3 linked regions of the Homo sapiens genome follow. The protein of the gene in region 2 interacts with the protein of the main gene of each other region in a pairwise test. Each region holds a gene or a part of one and is shown on either strand. Other genes may lie near its edges.

Region 1 (3,650 bases), on a different chromosome or scaffold from region 2:
CCTGAAGTAGAAGGAAGGAAAGGACACCTTTCTCCCCAGGATGCGTGCATGTGGCCATGGAGTTCCTGTTCTAAAGCTTTGGTGAGGTCTGTTGCTGGGTGGTAACCTGCACATCTTCAGTGTGCAAAGGGCAGGTGTTCATATGTCATACATGAACCTGGGGAACCATCACCACCGTCAGGACAGTGGCCATTTCTATCTTCCCCAAAAGTGTCCTCATGCCCCTCTGCCCATCCCTGCAACCACGAATCTGCTCTCTGGCACTATCGAATTTCATTTCAGCAGACTGGACAGTCCTCAGGAACCCCGAGATGAGAGGGGAAAGGGCATTCTACAATCTTGGGACAATGACACAAAACAGGATGACCTGGTCCAGAAGATGGCAGTCAGAATTCAGTGTCCAGCCCTCTGTTCTTCCACTCCACAAGGACTTTCTCAGAGCCTGCTTCTTCCCCAGTCAGCTTCTGCGGCAGAACCACTGAGTTGACTGAGAGTCCAGCTTTCCCCTGGAAGGGTGGAGGCCAGCGTGGATGTGCTGGCAGCATCTGGTGCTGGTGAGGCGGGGAGGCAGAGTGCCCATGCCAGACCCAAATCCCTGCTCACAGGAAGCCCCCATGCAAGCAGGAGGGAGCCAGAGAAGCCACCTGGCTTGGTGGGTGGGAGAGCAGTTTGGAGGAAGACGTCGCTGAAGAGGGGACACTGGCTGCCAGCCACGCTCCCGCACTCAAGCAGTACTTTCTCTCCCCCGCAGTTGCCTACATGTTGGCGATGGTCTCCCCCTTACAAAAAGGGGAGCCTGGGGCCAGGCGTGGTGGCTCACTCCTGTAATCCCAGCACTTTGGGAGGCCGGTGTGGGTGGATCACCTGAGGTCGGGAGTTCAAGACCAGCCTGACCAACATGGAGAAACCCCATCTCTACTAAAAATACAAAATTAGCCAGGCATGGTGGCGCATGCCTGTAATCCCAGCTACTCGGGAGGCTGAGGCAGGAGAATCGCTTGAACCCTGGAGGCGGAGGTTTTGGTGAGCCCAGATCGTACCATTGCACTCCAGCCTGGGCAACAAGAGCGAAACTCTGTCTCAAACAACAACAACAACAACAACAAAAGGGGAGTCTGGGGGAGGGGCAAGGCCCTGTCTGCAGTGTCTCCCTGCTGAATGCCACGCACCCAGGATGGCTGCCAGCACCATGGGGGCTCACATGCAGGTGCTTTAGGCAAGAATGCCTGGGAGATCACCAGAAGGGCTGGCCAGCTGTCCTTTGGCCTCCCTCGATGTGGACAGAGGGGAGATGACAGGCGGTCCTGACCCACTCCCCCTGTAAAGCCTGAGTAGGATGGGCGGGAGACCAGTCCTAAGTACCAGGGGTTTATCCCCTGACCATCTCCGGCGTGCTCGGATGCTAGCAAGCACATCATGGTGTCAGAGAGGGGGTGCCAAGGCCAAGACAAGTTCAGCAGAGTGTGGACCACGATGAGATATATGACAAGGGGGCCTGGTGGCAGTGGAGGGACATGGGCTGCAGAAAAGGCTCCGGAGCTGGGGACATGCTGTTTCCTGCCTTCCATTCTGGGCAACCAGCCTGCTTCCTTTTCCTAACTCAACACGCAGTAATCCTCCATTTTCAGGGGAGGTCCCAGATTTTCCAAACTAGGAGGACATGATTGGAATATAGGAATGGGGCTGAGGTTCCGACATGACACACGAAAGTGCCTGTGACAACCCACATCCGTGGAATAAAGGAACCATGTGGTCATCTCACTAGCCACAGAAGCAGCACTGCACAATCCAATGCCTCTCATGATAAAAACACACTAGGAATAGAATGGGAACTTCCTTACCCTGATAAAGGACAGCTATGAAAAAGCCACAGCTAACTTTATACCCCCTAGTGAAAGACTGGAAGCTTCTTTACCTTTAAGATGAGGAACAAGGGAAAGACATTCACAGGCACTTCTATTCAACATTGTACTAGAGACTCCAGCCAGAGCAAATTAACAAGAAAAAGAAATCGAAGGGCCAGGAACGGTGGTTTACACCGGTAATCCCAGCACTTTGGGAGGCCGAGGCGGGCAGGATTGCTTGAGGCCAGGAGTTCAAGACTAGCCTGGCCAACATGGCAAAAGCTCGTCTCTGCTAAAAATACAAAAATTAGCTGGGTGTGGTAGTGTGTGCCTGTAATCCTAGCTACATGGGAAGCTGAGGCAGGAGAATCACTTGAACCCGGGAGGCGGAGGCTGCAGTGAGCCGAGATTGCACCACTGCACTCCAGTCTGGGTGACAAAGTGAGACTGTGTCTCAAAAAAAAAAAAAAAAAGAAAGAAAGAAAAGAAAAGAAATCAAAGCCATCCAGATTGGAAAGGAAGAAGAAAAACGATTTCTATTTGCCAATGACATGATCCTAATATGTAGATAATCCTGAGGAATCTACTAAACAAATTATACTTAATAAACAATTTTAGTAAGGTCGCAAGATATAGGATCAATGTATAAAAATCAATTTTTTTTTTGAGACAGAGTCCTGCCCTGTCACCCAGGCTGGAGTGCAGCGGTGCAATCTCAGCTCACTGCAACCTCTGCCTCTGGGGTTCATGCGATTCTCTTGCCTCAGTCTCCTGAGTAGCTGGGATTACAGGCACACATCACCATGCCCCGTTAATTTTTTTTGTATTTTTAGTAGAGACGGGGTTCCACTATGTTGGCCAGGCTGGTCTTGAACTCCTAAGCACAGGTGAGCCACCCGCCTTGGCCTCCCAAAGTGCTGGGATTACAGGTGTGAGCCAACACGCTCAGCCAATCAATTGTATTTCTATACAGTAGCAATGAGAAGGCTGAAAGTAAAATTAAGAAAACGATTCCATTTATGATAGCATCATAAAGAAAATACTCATGAATAAACTTAAACAAAAGTGCAAAACATCATGTAAAGAAATTAAAGACCTAAATAAATGGAAAACGCACCCCATGCTCATGAACAATACTACCCAAATTGATCCACAAATTTGATGCAATCTCTATCAAAATGCCAACTGGCTTCTTTCCAGAAATTAACAACCTGATCCTGAAATTAATATGGAAACTTGAGGGACTTAGAATAGACAAAACAGTCTTGAAAAAGACGTACAAAGTTGGAGGACTCTCATTTCCTTACTTCAAAACTTACTACAAAGCTGCAGTAATGAAAGCAGTGTGGCGCTGGCTTAAGAACAGACATTTTTCTAAAGAAGATCCACAAATGGCCAACAAGCACAAGAAAAGGTGCTCATCATTTAGCTAACAGGAAGTGCAAATCAAAATCACAATGAGATACCACTTCACACCCAGCAGGACGGCCATAACAAAAACCCAGAAAATAACAACTGTTGGCAAAGATATAGAGAAATTGGAACCCTTATATGTTGCTGGTGGGAATGTAAACTGGTTCCAGCCACTGTGGAAAACAGTTCAATGGCTACAGGCACACACTCCAAAGAATTAAAAGCAAGGACTCAAACAGATACAAGTAGACCAGTGTTCACAGCAGCGCTATTCACAACAGCCCAAGGGTGGAAGCACCCCAAATGCTCATCAACTGACGAATGGATAAATATGTTGTATATCACAAAATGAAATATTATTTGGCAATAAAAAGAAATTGACTATTGATACAT
Region 2 (4,301 bases):
CTCACTTCTCACGGACCAGCAACTTTCTTTTCTTTTTTTCTTTTTTTTTTCTTGAGACGGAGTCTCACTCTTGTCACCCAGGCTGCAGTGCAGTGGTATGATCTTGGCTCACTGCAACCTCTGCTTCCTGGGTTCCAGTGATTCTCCTGCCTCAGCCTCCTAAGTAGCTGGGATTACAGATGCCCACCACCACGCCCGGCTAATTTTCTTTTGTATTTTTAGTAGAGACGGGGTTTCACCATGTTGGCCACACTGGTCTCAAACTCCTGACCTCAAGTGATCCACCTGCCTTGGCCTCCCAAATCGCTGGATTACAGGTGTGAGCCACTGCACCCAGCCAGCAACTGTCCTCTCAGGCAGTCTTGCTCTTGCATAGACGCACATATTAGTTCAGCTCACCTCCCATTTGCCTCTTTTGGTTGCTTCAGCAAACTCTCCTATTTTCCCAATGGAAATGTATAAATAACCAGTTGAACTGAAGGATCCAAAATAATAATTTGAGGCTACTCTTGAAGCCCATTCATAAGCAGTCCTTAGAGGAAAAAAAAAGGGGAGTTCAAGTTTGAAGGAAAAAAATACAAATTGGGAACCTCATGGTTTGAAATTTGAAACAAACAAAAACATTTATTGCTCTTAGGTTGGTTGGTCCTACAAATCTTGATCAATGTTTAATGCAATCTAAAAGCAAAACAAAAAGTAAATATTCCTTAATACAATTAGAACTGTGAAAAGGCACAAGCCAAAGAAATAAACTTTAGGTAACTTCTATGTGACTACATGAATGAAACTTTTTGGGAGTTTCAGATGATTTCAAATGATACTCAAATTGAATATAACCATAAATTATGTTCTCAAAGTAGTTATTGTTCCATCCTTTCTTCTACTTCTCTTACTATGCATTCTCATCCTTCTTGTAGGCTCCTCTTCCTGTGGCCATCCCTTCAATGTTAGAATTGCTAATGGTTCCTCCCTGAGCCCCCAGGCCTTCACACACTGCACTCTCTCCTAGGTACCTTACTCAATCCCCTTGCTTCATTCAGCACATATGCCCATGACTGCTGAATTTATATCTCCGGCCTGGGCCCCTTCCTAACATCAACTGTTCTTGGCTGTTTTCACCTGCATATCTCAGAGCCACCTGAGAGTCAACATCTCTGCAACTGAAGCCATCATTTTTTAAAAACCTGCTTCCTCTTATGTTCATCAACTCATCAAATGTTAACACTCTTAACTCAGTAGCCCAAGGAAGACATTTAGGCTTCATCCTGACCCTGCCCCGCACTGATCCTGTAAGCCAATCTTAAATCCACTCAGTTCCCTCCATCTCTGCTGTCTAACCCTAGTCATCTTACATCTGGATCAGTGCAATAACTTCCTAAGTGGTCTCCCTTTTTCCACTCCTGCTCCACACCAATCCTCTCTCCACCTTATAAAAACACAGATTGAATCTTTAAGTCCTTTCAATAACTCCTACTGCACTTAAGTCCAAAATCCCTAAGGCAACATACAAGACCCAGTGTGCTCTGCCTTTATCCACCTCTCCAGCTTAAAATCACACCATTTTCCTAGCTCCATGGACGTTAGCCATTAATACTGGATGACTTCAGTCCCTTGAAAGCATTTTGCTGTCTCTTTCCTCTGGGCTCATCTCAGGCTAATTCCTTGAACTTCACCTCCTGAGGAAGACTTGTCCAGCCCAGGTCAGGTCTCTCCCTACTCTGTCCCTCAAAGAAGCTTCCCCATTGGCCCACGGCCCCCAAGGGCAGAAGCCCAATCCATTTTGTTCATTGGCATTTTCTAGCTCCCTGCATAGTGCCAAATCATAGCTGACCTTTAATAAAACTTTAAACAATTAGCACTGAGTCTGTGCAGCTCCATTTTCTGAACAGCTCTTGAAAACAACATTTACTTCAGGCCATCGACATCTTGTCCCCTAGATTACTACCTCCTAAGCCATCTCCTGACACCTACTTCTCCATTTTCTTCCCCACACTGTTACCAGATGGTCTTTGCAAAATGTAGCTCTCATCATATGAGTCTCCACTGCCTTCAGGATAAAATCTAAGCCTCTGAACAGAAATGACAAGTGCTTTCATGGTCTGGCCCCTGCTTTCTCCCTGGCCTCAGCTCTCACCCCTCCCTGCCTCACTCCCTCTACACGCTCTCCTATCTGGGTCTTCACACCTTCCATGCTCTCTGCCTGGAGCACTATCCTCAGCCTCCCATGCCACCAGTGAGTAGCAAATCATTAGCTTCCTTCCCTGACTGAGGTTCCTCAACTGTGCTGGCTGTCCCCCCTTGTCCGTGTACACCAATTAAAGTGACCAAAATGTACCCTTCTTCCAGGACAGTCCTGGCTTACATCTGCTGATCCGGCTCTCATTCTCAAAAGCATACTGGTTTGGACAATAAATTATGTGGTCCCACTAACCATGACTATTAAATGTTCATCTAATTGTCTGTTTCTCCCCTGACAATAAACTCCATAAGGTCAAAGCCATCTGCCTTATTCACCACAGCATCAGGCACAGTGCCTGGCATATGGAAGATGTGGCATGTTTCTTAAATAAACAAATGTACTTACATACTGGAGAAGCATGCATTCTCATTAAGGCATTAATTTGGTTCCAGGGTTTGCTACTGAGAACAAAAATCGTGCCCCCCACACCAAATTTAAAGATTATATATTTCACAAAATGATTTTAAAACATATTTTGAAGAGGTTTTGAAGTCACAGATACGGAGATATAGATAAGCCAGTGACACACTTCACAAAAGGGCAGAATGCCAATTAGGAATATAATCCGCAACCAGGGAACTGATTTTCTTTCTCTGAAGCAAAAGGCCTATTTGCCAACCAATCCTGGCCTAGCCTCATTTTCCCTAGGCTTTACCTAAGTAAAAAAAATCAAAAACAAAAACAAAAACGAGTTTTTTCACAAAACACACTGATACTGACATCAGAAAACATTGGTTCATCAAGTTCTTCCACTCTGCTCAAGTTAGGTGCTCCATAACGATCGCTGATTTCAGCTAGTGTTTTGCCTGAGTCTAGTGTTGCTTCCTACAATCAAAAAATTGATTTTTACTTTTAAATGATTTCAAAATTAATACATTACTTTTCTTTCAATTTTGATTAAAAATTTTCTGATTTATAACATTAAAATTCAACATTATTAATTAGTGGAATTAACCAATTTCTGTTAATGACAAGAGAATTCTGGTAATGAATTGAGTATCCTAGAATGCAAAGCTACAATTCTGGTAATAAATACTAGAACTTTTTTTAAAAATACCTGCAGAAATTTAAAATAATTGTAAGTAATTATGTGGTAAATAGCTTCAATATCTCAAGAGAGCCTAGTTTTTAAAAATCCAAACACAAACTGAATGTCCAATTTTTACCTATTGTGAGATTTTGCTTCAAAGCACATTATTTGTGACTTGTTATCACCGGAAAATATACATGGACTATCAGTTTTGATAATATACTTGCTAAAAATTTAGCTACTTATGCATCAAAATTAAGCTTTACATTCTAGGATACTCAATTCATTTCACATAACATAGAATGACTTTTTCTTCTCACCTCTGAATGTAGAATATCTTCATTCCTAACTAGATTTTCCATATTCATTCTCATCTCCTATAATATATAAAAATTAAGAAAATACTTTGAATATACTCCATTTTGATTTCATGTTTAATTTTTGGCATTTTTACTTTTACACAATGCTATGATGAATTTAAAGCAAAAATGCTGTCACTCTGAAAGAGAATGATCTGATTACACATTACAAAACTGCAGATCACAGTCTTATTTAATACTCTATACTAATAGAAGGCAACCATGTTTTATATATAATTAAATAAAAGTTTTTTAAAAATGAAATGGACTGAAACAGTCAAACTGAAGCCAAATTATCTGCCAATATAAAAAGTGACAAAATAAAAATTATAATAGAACCTTAGAACAAGAGATTTTTAAGGAGAAAACCACACTTAAGTAGAGTTTTGCACATACCGAGAAAGAAGTAAACACTTCTACAGGAACTAATCTGGCCCAATGCACAAGTCCTCCCACAGGACCTGAGCAATGCCCTCTTTAATACTCTGAGCACTGCAGTAGGAATATACTGCCCAATAAGGGAGGCCTCTTTCTGAATGTGAAACATTCTTCTAGTCAGCCAAACCTTGCTATGCCATCTACCTTTTCATTCTAAAGCAGCAGGGTGGCCTAACTGACCCTGAGCTGATTCGTTTTGGCTGCTAGAAGACCAGTGATTTCTTGATCATACATA
Region 3 (3,650 bases), on a different chromosome or scaffold from region 2:
ATCATCTTGCTTTTAAAGCTGTCACATTTTCTTGACATGTTTTAAAGGGGCCAGCCCTTTATTATCTGGGGGCCACATGTCCTTGTGAAACTCCTGGGGTTTTCTTCTAGTTGCCACTGTCCAGAGGCCTACAGAGTTTTGTTCCCATAGACCAGAGTTTCTCAACCTTGGCACTATTGACATTTGAGGCTGGATAAGCTCTTTGCTGTGGGGGCTGCCCTGTGCACAGTAGGATGTTTAGCAGCATCCTTGGCCTCTACCCGTAGATGCCAGTAGCACCCCTACTCCCTGGAGGTGTGGCAACCAAGAATGTTTCCAGACATTGCAAATGCCCCCAGTTGAGAAGCACTGTGTGGATACACGTTTGGCCTCTGTGCCCAGGTTTCTCACATGTCCTGCCACCCAACTTAGAGGTCTATTGAAGATAAGAAAGACAATACTATTTTGTGTGGCTATTAATTTAAAAATTGGTGCACCAATTAACTTTGGCTTCCTGTTCCTCTAAGTCTGGAACTCAGCTCATCTACTGACCTCTATAAAGGGCAACTGTGTAACTTTCCTGGCCTCCCTTCAGTGATTTAATAATTTCAGTGGCTTTTTTAACTGCTGTTAGGGTAATTGGGTGGTCCAGGCCAAAACAGGCAGGAAGTTGCCTTACTCAACAGGCAGAGTATATGGAAGGCCACCCTCCTCTCCTTTGGCCCCACCTCCCTCGCTCAGCCACCAGTAAGGCCTTCAGCTAATTTGTCTCTTGGAAGGCCTGGCTCTACCCGAAGAGCTGGGTTTCCACTCAGGCCAACTCCTCTGGTGCTCCCACCCTGGACATTGCACCCCTGAATCTTCCCAGGCTGTCCTACCTCAGAGTCTTTCCTTTTGCCACCTAAGCCTGGATAGAGAGATGCCTAGTTCCACCTGCAGCTGCTCTCCACTTTTTTAGAGTTGTTGGAAGAAAAGTAGGGATGGCCAAATCAGAAACAAACACATTTATCCTCAGTTACTAACAACTCCTGAATGTGCATTTGAAACAGGAATAACCACCATGGCCTGCCTAATGGTATCACAGGCAGGCAGGCAGGACCAGAAATCACCTGGCCGCATGCTCTCTAAGCCCTGGGACCACCCTGTCAGCCAGGTGGTCTGGTTGGAAGTGTGTAGGTCAATCCTAGGAGGATGTGTGGACAATAGACGGTGAGCAAAGGTTTCTGGGTAAGTTAGTGGCACCAGCGTTTGAGAAAGGCCATATGGAAGAGGTGAATTGGTAAGGGAGGGGGTGGAGGGAGAACAATGGGGCCTCAGATGAGAACCCAGGTTGGCATGGAGAGCCCAGTCATGGGGCCCCTGCAGCGGCCCACTGAGGCCATCAGAGGCTCTCTGCCTGTTGAGTAAGGCAACTTCCTGCCTGTTTTGACCTGGACCAATTACCCTAACAGCAGTTAATTAAAAAGCCACTGAAATTATTAAATCACTGAAAGGAGGCCAGGAAAGGTACACAGTTGCCCTTTATAGACATCAGTAGATGATCTGAGTTCCAGACTTACAGGCAACAGGGCCTGGCCTGGGTTGCCGGAACCTGCCAAGGATAGGGGGCACAGCGTCTGGGTGTAAGACCTACTCATCCACCTACCTGCTGGGGACTCCAGATAAATCTCTGAGCCTCTCTCTGAGCCTCTGTTCTAACCTTTGTGGACAGCAGTATAAAAGTATATAAATCCATTTGACTGTTCAATTCTACTTCAAAGAATTGACAATAAGGAAAAAATCATGTATTCATATATTCATTCATATACGGGGATGTTCAATACAATGGTGTGTACAATTCTGGCAAACAGAAAAGCACACCAAATATTATATGCCCAGATATAAGAATGTGAGTTAATGAATTATGACACAGCCATAAACAGAATATATGCAGCTTCTCAAATCAGTATCCTTGATAGGATATACCATTAATGAAGGGAAAAAAGGGATGACAAAGCAATATGCTCGAAATAATTCTATTTTGTTATATATATATATATACACACACACACAATATTTAGAAAAAAGTCTGTAAGGATATACGCAAAAATGTTAGTTATGGGTGGCAGAATTATCTTAGTGTTTTTGTGCATTTTCCAAATTTTTTACAATCAACACAGATCTTTATTGTGGGGGAAAAGTGGTTGTGGTGAAGAAAGCAACCAACTCCTCAGCAGGGGCTAGGAGAAGAGCTCCAACCTCTGCTTTGTATGTTCTCACAATGAAACCAAAACAGTAAGAGATGTCCCATGTTTTCATACAATGTACAAAAGCAGGAAGTACCTATTTGTAAACATTTTGGCATTTTTGTAGATTTCCCTGAAAAAAATGGTCAAATTGTTATAGACTTGGCAGCCACAGAGTCTCTGCTTATCTGCAAAGAGCCTCAGCTTCCAACTCTAAAGCCTGCACTATTCAATCAGAGGGCAATGAATGCATCTTTTGACCTTGTTGCTGCCTTCCTGAATGCTGTTGGGGTGGCTGAATCTCAAAGCCAGCCTGGAGTCTGTCTTATCAGTAACTGCTGGTAATTAAGCAAGCCATGTCAATAGTTTCACACACAACACAGAAGGCAGTAAATGGGAGGATCCCACTTCCCTTCTGAGAAGACCCTGTGGGACTGTAACACGGAACCTACCACTACCACCAGCCAGTCTCCAAGCTATCACCTACCCTTCTTCTGGGAAGAATGATGAGCTTTGTGTGTCCAAGGTATCAGGTAGGTGTAGGACCTCCTCACCCACCCACCTGCTGAGGACTCGAGGTAAGTCTCTGAGCCTCTCTAAGCCTCTGGTGTAACCTTTGTGGACAGCAGTATAAAATAAAAATATATAAATACATTCGACTGTTCAATTCTGACCTAATCTTCTTCTGGGAAGAATGATGAGCTTTGTGTGTCCAAGGCTCCTTATTAGAAAGTCTAGAGGAACTAGTTTGCATAGGGATTATCTTGGTAGGATTTTCAGATCAAAATCAGTTTCCACAAATAAAAGTCAGAATCTCAATTAGACAGCTCTGGACTATTTTGTTACAGAGACCCACAAATATAGGATATATGCTTTCTTTCCTTCAAGGGAGTCATTGAAAGGCAGCCACATACAAAATAAAAGACAGTTCCCTGGCATCCCTCCATTTATTCATTAACAAAACCCTACTGGGTATCTATTGTATGGGAAGCAATATGGTAGGTGCCAGGGCTGCCATACTGTTGGATACATTCCCTGCCCTCACAGGGCTTCCAGTCAGGTATCAATCAAATAACTGCACAATTTACATGAGGCGAAGTGCTCCAGAAGCAAAGTACAGCTTTATGGGGCCCTGGAAGAATGCATGATAGGTACATTTTACCTGGATAAAGGGATCAGGATAGATTTCCCTAATGGAGTAAGAATTCAAGCTGAGACCAGAAGAAAAGTAGGAATTGGACAGGAAAATGGTTAGGAGTGAGGAGGGGGTAAGGGTAGGGAAGGAGGGACAGTGAGCAATTAATCATTCCAAGAAGAGGGACACAACATAAACAAGAGCCCTCAATTGGAAAGGAGCTTGGCTAAAACTGAGAAATAACTTTTCTTCATTGAACAAAGAGTTTCGTGTGGTGAGCTAGTCCAACAGCCTGACCTGCCCCACAAAAG

What was found.
Region 1: the proteins of DYDC1 (region 2) and PDZD4 interact in a two-hybrid assay, tested with the Homo sapiens proteins (one large-scale study listed by BioGRID).
Region 3: the proteins of DYDC1 (region 2) and ARNT2 interact in a two-hybrid assay, tested with the Homo sapiens proteins (one large-scale study listed by BioGRID and IntAct).

Annotation. Positions count from the first base shown.
Region 1 is NC_000023.11:153,823,917-153,827,566, forward strand, and holds part of PDZD4 (PDZ domain-containing protein 4), read right to left. Parts: intron 1-3,650.
Region 2 is NC_000010.11:80,335,508-80,339,808, forward strand, and holds the end of DYDC1 (DPY30 domain-containing protein 1), read right to left. Parts: intron 3,647-4,301; coding exon 3,590-3,646; intron 3,065-3,589; coding exon 2,960-3,064; coding exon of another isoform or gene 2,909-2,959; exon of another isoform or gene 679-2,908; coding exon 649-678; 3' UTR 598-648; downstream 1-597. UniProt on the Homo sapiens protein: Functions as part of axonemal radial spoke complexes that play an important part in the motility of sperm and cilia. Plays a crucial role during acrosome biogenesis.
Region 3 is NC_000015.10:80,410,876-80,414,525, reverse strand, and holds part of ARNT2 (aryl hydrocarbon receptor nuclear translocator 2), read right to left. Parts: intron 1-3,650. UniProt on the Homo sapiens protein: Transcription factor that plays a role in the development of the hypothalamo-pituitary axis, postnatal brain growth, and visual and renal function. Specifically recognizes the xenobiotic response element (XRE).